2 separate regions of the Homo sapiens genome follow, and region 1 is linked to region 2. Evidence: fine-mapped expression QTL. A gene starts in region 2. The other region holds a variant in brackets. All regions are shown on one strand. Distances are between the middles of the regions. Region 1 has its middle 18 kb from the start of LINC02648. Region 2 holds the start of PRKCQ-AS1 (PRKCQ antisense RNA 1).

Evidence for each region. PIP is the estimated chance that this variant, and not a neighbour inherited with it, causes the effect.
Region 1: its variant is fine-mapped to the expression of PRKCQ-AS1 in whole blood (INTERVAL, PIP 0.94).

What each region holds. Positions count from the first base shown.
Region 1 is chr10:6,595,689-6,606,112 of GRCh38, reverse strand. No RefSeq gene overlaps it. Among named protein-coding and RNA genes, the nearest start is that of LINC02648, 18 kb to the left of the region's middle. The variant G/T (reference allele first, on the strand shown) is at 4,259.
Region 2 is chr10:6,575,128-6,584,430 of GRCh38, reverse strand. It overlaps PRKCQ-AS1 (PRKCQ antisense RNA 1), which reads right to left and starts at 4,006. Exons shown (of 2, transcript NR_036503.1): 1 at 3,504-4,006; 2 at 1-755. PRKCQ (protein kinase C theta) reads left to right here and starts at 4,155. Exons shown (of 18, transcript NM_006257.5): 1 at 4,155-4,220. RefSeq lists an enhancer at 650-944 and silencers at 3,744-3,893, 3,904-4,153.

The DNA of each region.
Region 1 (10,424 bases), 21 kb before region 2:
AACTTTGCCTCTCTCTCTCCCAACAGCCAAGGGTAGTTTTGTCTCTTGAGCGTATTTCTGAGATCTAGGTCATATCTATGTACCTTATGCTCATCTCTGCAAATAGGCTGTTGCCCAAGAAACTTTTTGGTTCCTCAGAAACTTCTGGTCACCAGCCGGGCGCGGTGGCTCACGCCTGTAATCCCAGCACTTTGGGAGGCTGAGGCGGGTGGATCACGAGATCATGAGATCGAGACCATCCTGGCTAACATGGTGAAACCCCGTCTCCACTAAAAATACAAAAAATTGCCAGGTGTGGTGGCGGGCGCCTGTAGTCCCAGCTGCTTGGGAGGCTGAGACAGGAGAATGGCGTGAACCTGGGAGGCGGAGCTTGCAGCGAGCCAAGATTGCGCCACTCCACTCCAGCCTGGGCGACAGAGCGAGACTCCATCTCAAGAAACAAAAACAAAAACAAAACTCCTGGTCGCCATGCTCGCTTTGGTTCTGTCTCTAGCTCTGCCACCCTGGGACTTCAGGACCCTTCTGAGCTACAGTATTCCCACCTCTGCCCGTCAGTGCAGAGGCCCACCCCTCAGCACTCTGTAAAGACCCTCCCCTTCCCCTTGTTGGCCGATTTCTCCACCTCTTAATGAAGGAGTAACCATCTGGCCTCTCTTAGGGGACATCATTAGAGGGTGTCATAGAAAAAAAATAATTGTCCCCCAAAGATGTTATTGTAATCCCGGAACCCGTGGATATGTATTTTTTATGGCAAAAGGGTCTTTGCAGGTGTGATCAAGTTAAGGCGCTGGAGATAGGGTGATTATCCTGGATGACTGGGGCAAAGATAGGGTGATTATCCTGGATGACTGGGGTGGACCCAATGTACAAGAAGGAAGTGGGCTTTGGAGTTAGAGAAGAAGATGTAGTGGGATGAGCAGAGATGGGAGAGAGAGAGACAGAAAGGGACTTGAAGATGCTATGCTGCTGGCTTTGAAGGTGGGGAAGGCAACACGAGTCAAAGAAAGCAGGAAAAGGCAAGAAATAGATATAGATGCTCCCCCACTCCCGCAACCCAGGGTACCCAGGAGGAACACAGCCCAGACCACACCTTGATTTTAGGACTTCTGACCTCCAGAACTGACACATAGTAAATGTGTGTTGTCTTAAGCCACTACATTTGTGACTTTGTTACAGCAGCAATCCGGACCTAATATAGGTGAGTGAGCAATTTCCGTGTGAAGGATCCACTCAAGTCCTCCCAGCTCCTGAAGTCTTTTAGTCCCCTCTTCTGCCTTAACGTGAGGCACTCTGGAGTCTCAGAGTCCTTGAGTCTGGTCAGCTACTTCCTGAGGGCAAGCTTCAGCCAACCTTCCCAGAAAACGTTTAGAATCACTCTCTCTTATTTGAGCTGGTACATTGAATCCAGAATCTCTGGTAAGTGCCCCTAATTTGAGAAATTCAGCCTCACCTAAAATTGCGTTCCTTTCTTCCTGGTTTATGACCTTAAAAATTCATTCTCACCTATGCTTCTCTGGTTTCTGCTGGTATTCATTGGCAACATCTTGTAATTCATTGAGTCTGTAAGCATTCTCCTCCCAGGTAAGACCGTATTTACCCCCTGAGCCTTGCTGGGATATGGCTCTGGAGTTACGAGGGATAGAGAAATCAAGAGTCTGGAGGCCATGAGAGAATGGTCCTGTGTGAGAAGCGTGATCCCTGTTAGAAATCACCCAGGTGAGATGTTTGCATTAAGCCTTAGGGGAGGAGGGCTTGCTTCTGTGGCTGACAAAGCCTCTCTGGGGTTTGAATCTGCCCAAACATCCTCTTTCCAATCCTCTCTTTCCCAGAATTGTCCTATTTTCACACACACACACACACACACACGAGAATGGGAAGGCTGGAAAGGCAGAACCTGTGCTGTAATTCAGCAGCCCATGAGGACAGACCATGCCTGATTGCCAGCTGCATCAGCCCCATGCCTACAAGACATGAGCACACGCAGGGAAGTGCTGTGGTCCTCTGCCTGTTTCTTTAAAAGAAAATCTCAACCCTGAGCTCATCATATTATTTTAAATTAAGCTTTCTGGCACAGTTAAAAACAGGTAACCCATATTCTGAAGGCAAAATATCCTTGTTGCTTTCACACGTAATCTGATAAGATTGACAATCCAGATTGCCCATTTTCTTGAGAATAATCACACCAATTAGGGTAAAAGTTTACTGGCAAAGAACAGACTTCACTCTGGCTAGTTTACGTAAGAAGAGATTCTTATCACAGGCTAGTAAACACCTTCCAGAATCATTGCGAACGCTGCAGAAACAAACTCTGGGCTGTGCTTTTAGGAATAACGTTCAAATTATACTGCAGTCTCTGGCAGACAAGAGAGTGGTTGCTTTTGCCGCAATCAGGCACGGGGAATATGCTGCTTGAGGGATGAACCTGCCTCTGCACACAAGGGTCCCTGTGCCAAGCCGGCTCACTAGGATCCGTTTCAATGGAAAGGAGGTGTGTTGCCCACCTCAAATCCAAGTTCTGAGCAAATGTTTCTGCTCGCAGAACCTAAATCACATCCCAAACTCCAACTGCAAGGGAATCTAGGAGATGTCATTTTTAATATTCCAGCCTCTACTCCAAGAAGGCAGTTGAAACCAATCCGCAGTGTCTGCCCACTCCCGTGGGGATTCCTCAAGGAAGTACCACCAAGGGACTATCTGGAAAATCATGCAGTGAGGGTAATCCAAGCCCAACAGCTGCATTCGTGAGCTCTGGACATGCCAGAGACTTCTTGGCAGATGAGCTGGGAGTCAGAGCCTTGAGAAGAATGCAGGACCAGTTGTTTGGCAAGTGAGGGAGGCAATTCAAACTCAGCTCAGATGTTATGCGGATCAGGAATTTGAACTTCGAATTGTGCTCCATTGTTACCTTTTTGTGTGTTGGATTTTTCTTCATAGTTACTTTTATCTTATTGTTTAAAGTTCTCCTATTTTATTTCAGAAATGGAGAAAAAAGATTTCTACACCATAGTCAAGGTCTCTAATGGGAGAACTAACTAGTGAGAGAGGAATTATTCCCACCAGAGGGGAATTCCCTCTGACAAGCTTCTCAATTTACAAATTCTCAGCTTATGTTGAATTTGGCAAATGAGAGCCATATACACATTGTTTTTATTTTGGAATTTGGATCTATACAATTAACTAAGTGAAAGCTAGTATGCTATATGAATGCTAATTAATTGCTCCTCTTTTAAATAACAACAATTAAGACATTGTTAGCTGTACTGGTTTGCATACACAAATTGTTTGTCTTTGCTACTGGAGAAACTCACTGATCACAGCTGCATGAAAAATGTCTGGTCTACGAAACTTCCATCCATCTTCACATGATAATGCTTAGTTATGCACAATTAATTAACACTTGTAGATCAAAGGATTTTACTCTTATTTATGTCTACCTTTAACTCCTAGAATTGTGTACAATTACTTCCTGAGAAAATTTGTGCAGAATAATCACTTAACATGAAATAAAGTAATAAAACATTGAAACTGGGATGTGCATATGTGCATGAGTCTGGGATTGGGTGAGTTTCTGACAAATTGAGCATATGGAGCCTTGTGATTGATACAAAAGTAGCCATCTCTGAGAAGCCCCAAGCAGCTCGTGTTTGCACAGATTCTCTAGTGACTAAGACTGTTCTTATTTTCTCTACGCCTTTTTCCACTTTCCCATAAGCATTTTTAGACTATGCACTGTTTTTCTACACTGAAATCATCAAGTCACCTCCAAATCTTAAAACCAAGCAGAGAAAGGCCATTATTTAATCATAGCAGTTATGGGGTACAGAAGCAGTCTTCACATTTCCTACATCACATGCAGCCAGAAATCATTTCCTCCCACTGTAAACCCACCAGATTTTTTTTCAACTCACAGGAAGAAACAATGTTTTGGTCTCACTTATTTGCAGGTATATTGGAGGTTTGTATATCTTAAAAGAGAAACTGTCTCTAAGCCCCCAAACCCAAACCAAGGTTAAAAAATGCCCCCTTTTTCCTATTTGGCCTGGAAGCCAAATAATGCTTTCAAAGTAAACCTGTGCATTTTTAAAAACCAATGAGGATAATTCAGAATAAATAAATAAATAAATAAATATTCAAGTTTTCTCTCAATTTTGCAGATCTGGCCACACATCACATCAGCCTCAGGGTCTTCAACATTTTGTGACTGCCACGAGCTTTCCCCAGAACGATAAGATCAACACCGGTGGCTGAATATATCTCT[G/T]TCTCTAATTAAAGGCTTCCTTCTGTGCTGTGCTATGGATTAACTTGTAATCTACCGGCAGGTCTTCTTATGCTAGTTACCAAATACACAGTTCCAGGGACGAATTCTCTTTGAAACACCTCATTGATGAGTATTTAAAGCAGGGATCCCTAACCTCTGGCCTACAGACATGTAGCATTCCATGGCCTGGTAGAAACCAGGCTTCACAGCAGAAGGTGAGTGGCGGGCCAGCAAGCCAAACTTCATCTGTGTTCACAGCCGCTCTCCGTGGCCCACATTACCATCTGAGCTTCGCCCCCTATCAGATCAGTGATGGCATTAGATTCTCACAGGAGCATGAACCCTATCGTGAACTGTGTGTGCGAAGGATCTGGGTTGTAAGCTTCTTATGAGAATCTAAGGCCTGATGATCTGTCACTGTCTCCCATCACCCCCAGATGGGGCTGTCTAGTTGCAGGAAAACAAGCTCAGGGCTCCCACTGATTCTACTTTATGGTGAGTCGTAGAATTATTTTATTATATATTACAATGTAATAACAATAGAAATAAAGTGCATAATAAATGTAATGCACTTGGATCATCCTGAAACCATCCCTGTCTCCACCCCATCCATGGAAAAATTATCTTCCATGAAACCAGTCCCTGGTGCTGAAACGGTTGGGGACTACTAATTTAAAGGACACCCCATCATGCATCTCAACTACTATTTTTGAGGACAGATGTTAGTTATCCTGAATAATCAATTTTGTTATTCATCTGTTTCTCTTTTATATTTCTCACAGATACGATTTATCAACTGGATAATTTCTCTGAGTAATCAAGAAATTAGTAGCCTACGCTTGTAGTATGTGTTAACTGGGGAGATAAAGATTCCAAGGATAAAGAGAGTAAATTGATGTACATCTAATCAATGGATGTAACACCAATTTAAATGTTTAATCAATTCTCACAAACTCTTCAAACCCCTTGAGATGCTCTGTGTTCTCAGGTGGCTGCCATGCAGAGCCTGCGAATCCAGCAAGGGACTCTTGAGGCACCAGCAGCCTCCTTGTGAATGGCACCTGTCCCCCTAGCAAGACCACCGCCCTGGCCTGGCTTCATTACCTGGTCGTATAAAGACGGCAATGTTTCACTACCTTCCCAGAATTAGTGCTGACTCCCTTGAGTACCCAAACAGGAAATCCACAAGTTTTAAAGTACCCGTTCAATCAACCATGCTTGGTAACTTTCACACAGGCTTATGCAAGAACTTGCTCCAGTACTGTTTTTAATCATCTCTTCTGGAGCTGGCAAATTGTTTGCTTAATTTTGCATATGCCAACTCCAACGAGCTCATAATAGCTCCCAGGAGCGCTGCATTGAGAAGGATTCTGAGATCCTATATGAGCTTATGGGAAAGCACATTGTGTCAGGCAGCATTTATGCCCCATCAGTCTTGCTCCAGCCACTGCTGTAGGAACCACCTGTGCACAAGTGAACCTCACAACACCTCACTTCAGTTTCCTGCTGTCTCTTTTGCCTTCTATCTGGGGGCAGTCCTGCTCCTGTGGTGAGGAATCTCTGTAGGAACCAGCCCAGCCATGCTGCCAGTGGGCTAATTGCTGGGGCAGCCCTTGACCAGTGGGCTGAGAGCCAACAGGGAAATACTCCATTTCTGTGTCTTGGGTGGACAGTGCTGAGGAACATCCTACACCATTCCTCAGATTGCCCTTGATATGGTTTGGCTCTGTGTCCCCACCCAAATCTCATCTTGAACTGTAGCTCCCATAATTCCCACGTGTTGTGGGAGGGACCCAGTGGGAGATACTTGAATCATGGTAGTGAATAAGTCTCATAGGATCTGATGGTTTTATAAGGGGTTTCCCTTTTTGTTTGGCTCTCATTCTCTCTTGTCTGCCACCATGTAAGACATGCCTTTTGCCCTCCACCATGATTGTGAGGCCTTTCCAGCCACGTGGAACTGTGAGTCCATTAAACCTCTTTTTCTTTATAAATTACCCAGTCTCAGGTATATCTTTATCAGCAGTGTGAAAACAGACTAATACAGTCCTCCCTGGGGTTGATCCCACAGCCATAACCAGCTAATAATGCATCTATAAACCGGCTGGAATTCCCACTTTCCCTCCTCACTCTCCTCAGTTCCCCATTCCTGTTCTCTCAGATCACTTCTCAAAGTAAATTGTTTCTATAAGAGTTCTTATCTCAAGTTCTGCTTTCTTGGGGGGAAATCCAAGCTAAGAAAAGTCGCTGCTAAATTATTGGGGTTAGCCATGAATGAAGGTTTCATGGGGAGTTCTACCTCTTAAGTTCTACCTCCTGGTGTCTTCCATCCCTTACAATGATTTCAACTCCAATCAGCAGCGGAGCAACTGATACAATATCACTGAGGAGGCGGTTCAGTTAGCTGACAGTTGTTATCATTATGTATAGTTTAGAATAAACAATGTGTTTGTTTTAACTCCAAGTTCAATCTTTCGTTCATCATCTTTAAAAATTAAGACAAATGTTTCATCCTCATTATCAACAACAATATCAACAATCTTTTCTGGGTGATTTTTTTTTCAGAGTACTGTCTGAAAAGTACTGTTGAGAATGACCAAGGAGACAAAAATAGAGAACTACTTGCGAGACTAAAGTATAAATGATAAAAGAGGGTAGGGAGCTGAGGGGATGAAGAGAGGTTGATTAATGGGTACTATACTAGTTCGTTCTCACACTGCTATAAAGAACTACCTGAGACTGGGTAATTTATAAAGGAAGGGGGTTTAATTGACTCACAGTTCTACAGGCTGTACAGGAGGCATGGCTGGGAGGCCTCAGGAAACTTATAATCATGGCAGAAAGGTGAAGGGGAAGCAGGCATGTCTTCATATGGTGGCAGAAAAGAAGGAGAGCGAAGGGGGAAGGGCTGCACACCTTTAAACAACCAGATCTCATGAGAACAGTAAGGGAGAAGTCTGCCCCCATGACTCAATTGCCTCTCATGAGGCCCTTCCTGTGGGGATTGCAGTTTTACATGAGATTTGGCTAGAGACACAGAGCCAAACCATATCAGGTACAAACACACACTTAGAAGAAATAAGACCTGGTGTTTGATACATCAGTAGGTTAATTATAATTAACATGAAGTGATTGCACATTTCAAAATAACTAGAAGATAATAATTTGAACATTCCTAGCATAAAGATAAATATTTAAGATGTTGGACATCCCAATTACCCTGATTTGATTATATGAATGTACCAAATTATTACATGTACCCTAAAAATATGTACAGCTATGGTGTATCAATAAAAATAAATAAATATTTTTATAGCAAAAAAGATCTGAGAGCAAAAGCTATAATAATAATATAAATTGCATATTCTGAAAACTAAATAAATGCCACCAAGAAAAAAATACTATCTTTAGGGAAGAGGTGGAACTTGAATTGGATGTGCAAAAAAAGGATTGGATTGGCAGAGGAGTAGAAAGGGAATTCCAGGCTGAGGATTGGTTTTAGCAAAAGTGCAGCATGGGAATGCATGTGGCATGTTCAAGAATTAATTAGGCAATGAGTTTAGGATAGAGAATATTTATGGAAATAGAGGGAGATAAATTTAAAGAAATAGACTGGGACTATACTACGAAGGATGATAAAGACCAGAAAAAGGAGTCTGAATGTTTATTCTATAACCCATAAGGTCTTATTGGCTATTTGGTGACTCAAACTATCAATAAGCCTTGAAGCTTGCAGACCAGAACTAACAAAATATCCCAGATAATATAGATGAACACAAGGAAGACTGCAGTGTGCTCTTGAACCACACAACTGCTACTCACAATTCTTTCGAATAATAAAAGGTGAAGGTGAGAACTTTAAGAAATGCTTAAAAGAAGGGGAAATAAAATAAAAATTGGGATGTCAGAGAGCTATATGCACTCCCATGTTCCCTATAGCAATATTCACAATAGCCAAGATATGGAATAACCTCTGTCCATCAAGGGATAAATGACAAAGAAAATGTGGTATAAGTAAAGCCTTAAAGAAAAGAAAAATCTATCATTCTTGACAACATGAATAAACCTGGAGGACATTATGCTGGGTGAAATAAGGCCGGCAGAGGAAGAGCAATACCACATTATCTCAAAACATCTCATGATGTGGAACATAAAGACGTCAAACTCATAGATGCAGAGAGTAGAATGGTGGTTACCAAGGACTGGAGGTGGGGGGGGAAATAGGGGATTGTTAAACCATACAAAATTTCAGTTCGACAGGAGGAACAAGTTCAATATATCCATTCTACAACATGGTGATTCTGGTTAACAGCAACGTGTCGTATACTTGAAAATTGCTCAGAGATTTTAAATATTCTCACTACAAACAAATGAAAACTGTTTGAGGTAATGTACATGTTAATTAGCTTGATGTAGCCATTCCACAATGTACACATATTTCAAAACATCATATTGTGCACCATAAATAGACACGGTTTTTAAAATTTCTCAATTTGAAAAAATGTTTTAGAGAAGAAAGCAAAGAAGACAAAAAGCAAGACCTTACTGCTGAGCCTGAATCCACCGGCCTGGATACCAGTGGATTTTCCTGAATGAAGTCACTGATTTTTTTTTTTTAAGTAATCATTACTTTTCAATTCTAGGACTTAGAAAATGCTTGTAACATATTTGCAAGGCAGTAAAGGATTAGTCACTGAATATATCAATGTGTTAAAATGATAAAATAATTAGGCAGGCAAGATGGAAAAGGAAAAAGGCTTTAAAATCTGCAGCGGAAGGATGGATTTAGATAGCTGCCTCATACCTCCTCCTTCTTGTTTTATATTTTTAATCCTGTTAAAAAAAATCACTCCCTCAACAAATATTCTTTGAATGGTGACTGTGTATCATGGGAAGGTTACTGGAGGCACAGGCTTAAAGTCAACACTGCTTTCAAATCTACACTCTGCCATCTACTCACCCATGGTTTTTGCAAATTGTGCGTATTTTCTGATCCTCAATTTTCTTTTCTGTAAAACAAAGATATAATATCTACCTCATAGTCTAATGTAAGAATCATATTTATAAAAGTTCTATAATATGCAATCAATTAATGGAAACTTAAAGATTAAAAAGTTTCATTTTCCATATCATCAAAAAAATGGAAAGATAAATTACTGTATGATAGGGCATTTGCTAATTTCCTAGCTATAATTTCAGCAATTGTGATAGGCTCTGCCTACAGAAATAATTTTAGTTGGAATTTAAATATCTCTATTAAATCTTTAAATTTCATTAGGAAACATAAATTCTGACTTCTCATTTAAAGATGGCCTATCCAATGTCCATGTATTTAGTTTCTCTGCTTCTCTGACTTAAAAAGAAATGGTATACTGAAAGTTATTTATTTGTTTCACATAATTCTACTTAAATCGCTTGAGATATCTGCTTTCTAGCTTCTCATTTAAAAAATCTCTCAAGTAATCTTGAAATACACAGTAACTTTTATTTTGATTTTCCCATTCAGCTTGGTGTTTAATTCTTTGAGATTCAGTGATTCAAGCTTTTAGTAAATTACCATTATGATTCTATTACATCATCAACTCCAGAATCATAGTACCAAGAGAAAAAAAATATATAAACTCACAAGTTTAAATTTGCTACAACTAATTATTGAAAAAAGCATTTTAATACTAAATCAGATTTTTAAGGCAGAGATCATACAACTGATACAAACTCCAAAAATTAGCAAAATCCCTGACACTCATTAATAAGCTCATTGTCTTTGATAGTGTCGTAATGATGTTTTTATTACATGAAAAGCTTTGTATAAGTTGGAAAAATACTTACGAGACATCATCAAATGTCTTTTTTTAACCTACATAAAAATAGCAACTAAAAAAGCACATCAGAAACATAATACCCTCAGTTAAAGAGTCGTTTTTGTCTGAAAATGGAAGAAAATCTAACATATTTACCATTTCCCCACAGTTGGCATGTCTCTATCAGTTAGAAAGGAGGACAAAAGTATACAGTGAAATGTGATTTCACTCAGTAGCTTGAGGCAGCCAGCAAAAGAATTTTGACCTTACAGTGTCTCCTTCAAAGGATGCTGTTCGAGCAAGTGTTTTCTTCACAAAAAGCAAAACCAGTCACTGTTCAAAACCAACATGGCTAGGCTGAAAAT
Region 2 (9,303 bases):
ATCTCCCTTTTACTTATCCAAGCTGTGAATTTAAAATACCTTTCGTTTTTGTTTGTTTGTGCCTATCAACTTTGACCCATAGCTCCCAGAATAATTTTGATATTTTCTGAATAAATTGACACTAGACTTTATACATCACTCATGTCTTTATTTAGGGTAGGCCACTGTCCTCTAATTCCATACTGATTCTTCTGGGTACTCTGGTGAGCCACTCAAAAAACAATTTCTGCCAAACCTTTGGGAAAGTATCAGTGGTTTGGTGGCCAAATTCCTCATCAAATAGTGCAAACTGGTTTCCTCCAAGCTGTGACTTCTGCAGAGACAGAAATGTCCTTGTTAAGTAACACTGTCCTCAAATTTTCTATGTGTATCATAGCCTACTTCCTCCTGAATACTACCTTTCTCCAAATCAAGACTCAAAATAATATGTTTTCTTTTTAATTTCTATCCTAAATCCCATATAGAAGGAAGGATGCAAGACGTGGTCTCCATGGGAGACAGAGTATAATCACCAACTAGGTCCAAAAGAAAAGCAAAGTCGTGTCCTGGGTTCCTTTTTCCAAGTTCCGAGTTGTGGGAAGATGGGTTGTGGCAGCTCCGGGAGCAGACACATAGGATTTCCTCCTTCCTCAGCTCTCAGGAGGGCCGCTGGATCCAAGGCAGGGGTCAGGTATTTCCGAGATGAAGTGAACTGAATAGGGCGGCTACCCGAAAGGCAGTCCTCAGCATTATTCCAGGAAACATCAGGGCAGAACCTGAAAGAGGAAAAGAAGTACACAGCTGAAAGTTAGGGTGTGTTTAACGTAGTGAGTGGAACCTCACCGCCCACGTGTCATCCCCTCCAGGAAATGCCATTTCCTCTTCCAGGAAACAAAGGTGTGGAGAACTTCTGAGAGCAGCCACGTTTATATAACTAAGAGACAGTGTCTAATAGAAAACAGAAACACCCCATGGCCTGGGAAAGGAGATGGCGGGTCTACAGGATGCTGGCATCAAGAATATCTAGAGGTGTCCACTACACCTAATGGATACCAAGAACAGATGTGAATTTTTTGTTTTAGATGAAATTTTACGATAAAAAAATCCCAATTTTGTAGATATATGATGGATGTTGTTTTAAAAGATCTGATCTTCAGGTTAACGGGTTTCCTGTTGTAGGACTATACGATTATAGGACAATTGAGTAGCCAAGAGTCCTCAAAGATCAGTTGTCCAAAAGAGAAAGAAAGAGAAAACTGAGTGTACGATGTAAGAATGGAGAATTGGCTGGGCGCAGTGGCTTATGCCTGTAATCCCAGCACTTTCGGAGGCTGAGGTGGGCGGATCACCTGATGTCAGGAGTTCGAGACCACCCTGGCCAACATGGTGAAACCCGTCTCTACTAACAATACAAAAATTAACTGAGCATGGTGGCAGGCACATGCCTGTAATCCCAGCTACTCAGGAGGCTGAGGCAGGAAGAATCACTTGAATCCAGAAGGCAGAGGTTGCAGTGAGCCAAGATTGTGCCACTGCACTCCAGCCTGGGTGACAGAACAAGACTCCATCTCAAAAAAAAAAAAAAAAAAGGAGAATTAATTATTCAGCAGCTCTTGAGATGGTGGCTCCAGCCTGACCTGGGTTTGAATCTTGGTTCTGGTACTTTAGTAATTGTGGGATCTTGAGCGAGGTACATAACCTTTCTAAGCCTTGTTAGTCTCTTCTGTTAAAGAGAGATGATAATGATGATGATACATATCACATCAGATTATGAATATTATATGAGTAGTGCGTCTAAAGTCATCACAGGCTGGGCATGGTGGCTCACCCCGATAATCCCAGCATTTTGGGAAGCTGAGGTAGGAGCATCACTTGAGCCCAGGAGTTTTAAACCAGCCTGGGCAACATAGTGAGACCCCGTCTCTACAAAAAAATCTTTTTAAATATTAGCTTGGTCATGGTGATGTGTGCCTGTAGTCCCAGCTATTTGGGAGGCTGAGGTGAGAGGATAACTTGAGTCCTGGGGGATCAAAACTGCAGTGAGCTATGATCACGCCGCTGCACTCCATCCTGGGCAACACAGCAAGACTCTGTCTCAAAAAGAAAAAAAAAAGTCCTTATCATACCTGGTGTATATATGAAACTTTTTCTAAAGCCACTAACTACTGATTAAATTAACAGGACATATGAGCTTCCTTTCAGTGCCTAATTGTCAATGAGAAACCCAGATATGGAGCGTGAGGAATCTACCATCTTCTAGGCACAGTAGCTGTTATCCGTTTGCCATTTCTTCTTTGCACTGTAACAGGATCCGCTGAAAAACAATTGGAGAAAGAGCCAGATGGATGGCAGTCTGAACTAGGGAAGCTTCTGTTTTGTAGTTTGCAGAAAGAATCTGCATGGGGATCACTGCTTAAGCTTTGCCTCTTTGTTTCCAGACACAGACGCACTTTCCTGCCTAATTTCCATAGCAAATACCCAATGAGCGCCTACTGTATGCCAGGTTCTGATGATGTCAGAGTGAGCCAGCACTTCCGAGGTACTGGCCACTCTCAAACCTCCTGGCTAGGATCTTCCAAGAGCTACAGCCTCTGGCCTGAGGGTCAGTCCAATGCTGTTAGATATTGACAAATGCGGGGCTAATTTTAATGGAATATAGTTTTATCCTTAAAAGGTGTGTGTGTTTTGGCTTTATTTGGGTTCATATAGATTAGGGGCATCATCATAACTCGCTTCCTAGTGCAGACCTGAGTGATTTAATCAAGTCTTGAAACACTTCGGGGCCTCAGTTTTTCATCTGCCTTCCCAACCTCTGAGGTTCTTTTTAGTTGACATCCTACATTCCCATGATCAGAAGGCTGCTAATTCAACTTTTGGCTTTTGTTAAACCTTTTTTTTTTTTGAGGCAGAGTTTTGCTGTCACCCAGACTGCAGTGCAGTGGTGAGATCTCAGCTCACTGCAACCTCCTCCTCCCAGGTTCAAACGATTCTCCTGCCTCAGCCTTCTGAGTAGCTGGGATTACTGGCACGTGCCACAACACCCAGCTAATTTTTGTATTTTTAGGAGAGACACGATTTTGCCATGTTGGCCAGGCTGGTCTCAAACTCCCAGCCTCAAGCGATCCACCCGCCTCAGCCTCCCAAAGTGCTGGCATTACAGGCATGAGCCACCGCACCTGGCCTGTTTTGTTTTGTTTTAATCGTTTTTAATGTCTCTCTCAAAACAAGAAAAGAAAAAAGGACAAAAAATTACTATTTTACTTCTCAGATTAATCTGATCTTAGTACACTACAGCAACAAAAGTCTTAATCAAGTACGTTTTAATTATTTGGTGTCATCATTGCAAGGAAACCATTCAGTAAGAATATTAGTAACCAGACATATAATTTTCTAACCTGAATGAGAAATTAGTTACATGGAGTATAGAAAAAGAAACCACCCCGTTTATCCTCCCTGTGACCATCATTAGTATTACCCGCAAGGCATAAAAAGTCCTAAAATGACACGCACGGCGGCAACATTACCTTTGCAGCTTCAAGCACAGTAAAGTTGAAAGCAGTCCCACCTTGGCAATTGTGTATAAAACGACAATGTGCAGATACAGGAAAAGTCCCAGGTCCGAAGCCACCTAGGAACGATGACCCCAGGACAGAAGTGTGCCCAAACAAATGCCTGGGGTAGGTCATTTTAAAAGGAACAATGTTTACAAGCCCTTTCTAGCGTGAAAAACAGAGAAAAGAGACCCAGCTCTTTCCACCCAATCTGCTGGAGCGCCGTTTCGTTTTCAGTTGGGCGAGAGGGAGACATGTGGCCTCTCGCCCCTTTTCCTGACTCTGAGAATGTGGCCGGAGCCGGGGCGCTCCTGCTCCGCCTCGCCGCCCTCCCGGGGCTGTCCTGGGCCCTCCGGCCGCCGCCTCCCGCTCCAGTTCGCAGCTGGGCGACAAGTGGCTGGTAAGGAGGCCAGGGGCGGGAGCCTGGGCGCGGGACCGGGGGCGCACGGCGGGGGACCGAGCGCGCGTCCCTGGCTAGAGGTGCCGGGTCCCGGGAGGCCGGGCTGGCGGGGAGGCTGGCGAGCGCCCCCTGGCGGGCACCGCCTTCTAGGCGCACCCGCAGTGCGCCGGGCCCGCCAGCCCCGCCAGCCCCGCCAGCCCCGCCAGCCCCGCCAGTCCCCGCGCAGTCCCCGCGCAGTCCCCGCGCAGTCCCAGCGCCACCGGGCAGCAGCGGCGCCGTGCTCGCTCCAGGTAGGGCCCCGCGCCCCGCGCCGCCGCCGGGAGGGAGCGGGCTGGAGGGGCCGAGACCCGTGGCGAGAAGGGCTACCCGGGCCCCTCGGAGAGCCTCCGGGAAGGGGTGAGGGCTGCCGGGTGAGCAGGCGGAGTAGGAAATGGAACCAAGCGGGCGCAAGAGCGCACCGGGAAGAATTTCCCCGCTGGGTTTCTGGGACGCAGGTCGCACGGGATGCGGGATGCTGGCGACCTTAGCCGGGTGGGGGCCGCCGGCCTGGGGGCGCTTCCTCCTTTCTTCTCCCTTTTCCTTCTCACCTGAACGAAAGGGGGCCTGCGGGGAGGGAAGAAGGTGGAAAGTTTTTGTATTCTTGGTAAAAAAAAAAAAAAAAAATGCGTGAGGAAACATGTTTTCTGGAGATGGTATCCTGTCCACAGGGGAGCATAACCCCTTTTCTGGGAATGTATTGGAGCACGGACGGGGGTGCCATTGCTCAGGCTTCTAAACAAGCCAAGTTTCTGGTCAAGGGCCTGGGGGAGGGGGAGGCAGGTCTTTGAAAGATACCAAAAAAAAAAAAAAAAGAAAAATCTGCGTGCTCATTCCTGTAGCCTCAAGTGAGGTTATTCCCCAGCTTTGAGGGCCAGGTTAACCAAGCAAAGTTTGTGCAATAAAGTATCTTTGTGGTATTGGATTTTCGAGAGCCACCGTTATCAATGGGAGAGTGACTGTTGAATGCTACAGGCGTGTGCACTCCCCCGTGGGCATGAAGAGAGGTCCACGGGCTGGCTGGATTGGGAGACTCCGGTCATTTCTGCAAGGAGAGCGCCACAGGACTGCCTTGTTCCCTGGGCTGTCCTGCCCCTGTGCGGGCTGGACGTGGTGCTATAAAAGATGATTCAGGAGTGGCACAGGCTGAGGGGGACTAGGCTGGAGAAGGTGGAGGGAAGAGGGAGCACTCCGTGCCCTCTTCCTGTCCATGGGAAATGAACCATCTGTGCCTGGTGTCCAAGTCCTTGACGTTCCAGTTGCCCTTTGAGAGCACACCTCAAGCCTGCTGAATTCTTTTAAGAACCACCTACAAGATCTGAGAAGTCCGCCCATGCTTTCTGTCAACTCCGGCCTCTTTGACCTTTTCTTTTGCCAAAGAAAATTCTAAACCACTGGGATTCGTGAGGCTCCGTGAGAGAGGCAAGAAGCCTGGAGGGTCCACTCCGTTGCTCTTTTCCCTTGGTTTGCTCCCTAGAAGCCATGGTCCCCACTGGGCCCTTCTTGCCCGAGGCTGTGTGATAGACAAGCCCTATTCCTAAGGTCCTGGGTCCCCCACCCCACCCCACACCCCGACCTTGTGAATCATCATCTTCATATTTTCCCTAACTTATCTTTGGTAACCCTTGTAAAATGGCAGGCTTACTGCGGATGCTTAATCTCTTTTAAAAGTGCTGTGTCTAGCGGGAAGAAGAGTGACATTTACTAATATGGTTGCAAATTACTTTTGAAGTTTATGCACAGCTGTTTAAAATCCCTCTGAGATCAGTGCCATTGTTTGATGCAGGTGCTTACCGCAGAAGGCTCTTGTTAGTCCCTTCCTCCTGCTGATTGAACATACATATATTTAAAGACGTGGCGTAGGGAGAGCTTCTAAAACCTGCAAAGCCAAAGCTGCACAGCTCCTGCAAGTTAGCGATCCACTCTAAGTTTTTCAGTTGTTGTTTCTGTCTTCTTGCCTCTCATGAACTTCTGTTTCTGATTTCAAGAGTAACCTGCTGGGCACCATCAGCCTTTGTTTCAGTGACCTGCGATTTTCTTCTACACTTTAAAAATGTCAATATCCAGGCAAGACTCTTGTCACCCACCATCCGCGTTGTCATGTTCATTTCCGCTACTGTCTTGTGCTGTGGTGCCTCGGGATGGCAACTGTTACTTGAGGAGCTAACTTCTACCTCTGTTCTCCTACAGACATGTCCTCATTGCGTCTTCGCTCACCATACACGGTGCAGCTCCTGGAAATTTGATTTGTTTTGCTGTCTCACTTCTCCTTCAGGCAACAAGGGGATGGTGTTCGATTATTCACACCTCAGCTCCTTCTGTAATCTCAAAGATCCCTTTCAACAATAATACTCTCTGTCTCTTGTTAACGCCAGGCATCAGAAGCCCCCTTACATAGCCGGCTTGTCACTGGTCATTTCTATAAAGTATTCTCATTCTAACACATGCTGTCTCTTCCGTGGAAAAGACTAAATTCTTCTCTGCAATGAATTAGATGTTTTAACCAAAATTCCATGTGGACTGGGTCCAGAATTTTCTTTCAAGAGTATGGGCTTGTGGTACAAGTATGTAACTTCGGGGATTCAGAAGTAGACCTACACAGACAAATCTCCTTATAACGTGTTATTTAATTATGGTATATTTGCCTTTCTGGAAATTAGGAATTAGAGTTAGTACTTCCTGTTTTTAATGCATTTGATTGATGTCTTAGAGTTGCTGATTATGTTGTTGCCCCTAAAAATGTTGCTAATGTGCTGGTTTGTTAACAAGGTTATATTTGATTTCAGGTGATTTCCTTTTTATGGAGTTCAGTCTTTAATTTTTTTCAATAATTTGCCTCAAATCATTTAAAATGATATATTGTTATATAATGAAAATCCCAGCAATATAGACGTGATTCCGTGTGTGTGTGTATGTGTGTGTGTAATCTGTAATTTAAAATAGAGAAATTAGTATTGTGACGGCATACATAGCATTAAACTCATGCTTGCTGTTTCTGTTGTTTTAACACTTTAAGCAGCTCATTTCTAAGCAGCTATGTGTTCAGCTCAGCTTTTTCATACCTATTCCAATTGTTAAGGAAGAAGTCATGAGAAACTATAGAAAAATGTGATGTTGAACCAGAGAGATGGATTAAAAGCTGTTTCCTTACAATGGTGAAAATATCTTTCATTATTTTAACATGCCAAGCATTTATACATGTCAAATTCTGATTGCTCTGTCATCTAAACACATTCTTGGGGACAAAATGAGCATCAGAGTTTTAAAATTAGGAAAGCTCACTCAAGCCCAGAATCATAGATTTTTGCTCCTGGATTAAATTAGCAAGTATTTGGCAGGACATCTTTCTGCAGGTTGCTGTAGGTTGATGTTAGCTTTTGAATTAAGCTAATAGTATTAATTATAATAATAATAATCAGCATCAACAAAACCAATGAAATATGGTTTTGAGTCTTTATTATTTAGAATTTATGTGCTGTATATCATACTCAGAATTTTATTTATATGTAAGAGGCATTACTGCTTCATTTAACCTCCAAAAGCCTTTATAAATTAGATATTATTATTATTCCAGTTTTTCAGATGAGGAAACTGAGGCTCAAGGGGTAGAGCCCCTTGTCCAGGTCTTATAACCAGTCAGTGGTAGAGTCAGGTTAGTTGGACCATCCAGATTAGTCTAACCATCAAGCATTTGCTTTAAACCGCAGTCCCAGGTGACCTACCAGTTAACTTTTTTATTGTGGTTAAAATACACATAACTTAAAATTTAACTTCTTAACTATTTTCTAGCGTACAGTTCAGTGACATTAAGTATATTCACATTGTTTTGCAACCATTGCCATCATCCATCCACAGGATTCTTCTCATCTCCTAAAACTGAAACTCTGTCCTCGTGGAACATTCGTTCCTCATCCGTCTTTCCTCTCAGCCCCTGGCAGCCACCCTTCTACTTCCTGTCTCTAAGATTCTGACTGCTCTAGGGACCTCACAGAAGCAGAATACAGTATCCATCCTTTTGTAACTGTCTTATTTCACTTAGCATAGTGTTCTCAAGCTGTATCCATGTGACAGCATTGGACAGGACTTCCTTCCTTTTTAAGTCTGAATACTATTCCATTTATGGATATACCACATTTTGCTTATCCTTGTATCTGTTGATGGTTGCTTCTATCTTTTGATTATTGTGAATAATGCTGCCGTGAAGAGGAACACGCAGATATCTGTTTGAGGTCCTGCTTTCAATTCTTTGGGGTATGTACCCAGCAGTAGAATTGTGGGGTCGTAGGGTAATTCTATGTTTAATTTTTTGAGGAACTGCCATATTGTTTTCCACAGTGGCTGGACCGTTTTACATTCCCACCAGTGGTAGAAAGGGTCCCAATTATTCCACATTCTCAGCAACGCTGTCTTTTGTTTTGTGTTTTTTGAGATGGAGTCTCGCTGTGTCGCCAGGCTGGAGTGCAGTGGCATGATCTCAGCTCACTGCAACCTCTACCTCCCAGGTTCAAGCAATTCTCCTGCCTCAGCCTCCTGAGTAGCTGGGACTATAGGCACGCGCTGCCACACCCAGCTAACTTTTGTATTTTTAGTAGAGATGGGGTTTCACCATGTTGGCCAAGATGGTCTCGATCTCTTGACCTCATGATCCACCCACCTTGGCCTCCCAAAGTGCTGAGATTACAGGCGTGAGCCACCGCACCTGGGCTTTTTTAAAAATCTTCTTTATAGTAGCCTTTCTAATTGGTGTAAGGTGCTGATAGTTAACTTTTTACCCAATCATTGAATGCCCAATGGCAGGGATCTCTGGGCTGATGCTACTCCTGAGTTCATTGTTTATTTCCTATCCCAGCTTGAGCATATACACCTTTTTCTAGTGTAGAATTAATGGAGGAAATACAACTCACACAGCACCTGAGGGACTAGGGAAGCCATGGAAAGGACAGTCCCTAAAACATAAACAGAATGTCCCGGTAGGTAGGGTTATCTCCACCTCCATGAGGAACCTTATGATTCAGAAATGAGTAGTTGTTGAGAATAAAGTGAACATGGCATCAGTGTTAATAACCCTGAATGTGTGGGACAGATGCTTTTTAGAAGATTAGTTACAGATATAATTATCTTTTGTATGTTATCAGAGCAGGACAAGTTCCCAGGACAATGGAGAGAATGGAAAGGGAAACTGCTATTGAATTCACCAGGCCTTTGTTGCAAGCCTCAGATCACACACCGTGCTGCAAAACCCACAGGGAGATGTGGTCAGGCAAATAGGAAATTATAATGAATTGTGATGAATTCATGAGATATTTGTACTATTTTGTATCAGTTTATAATGTCATG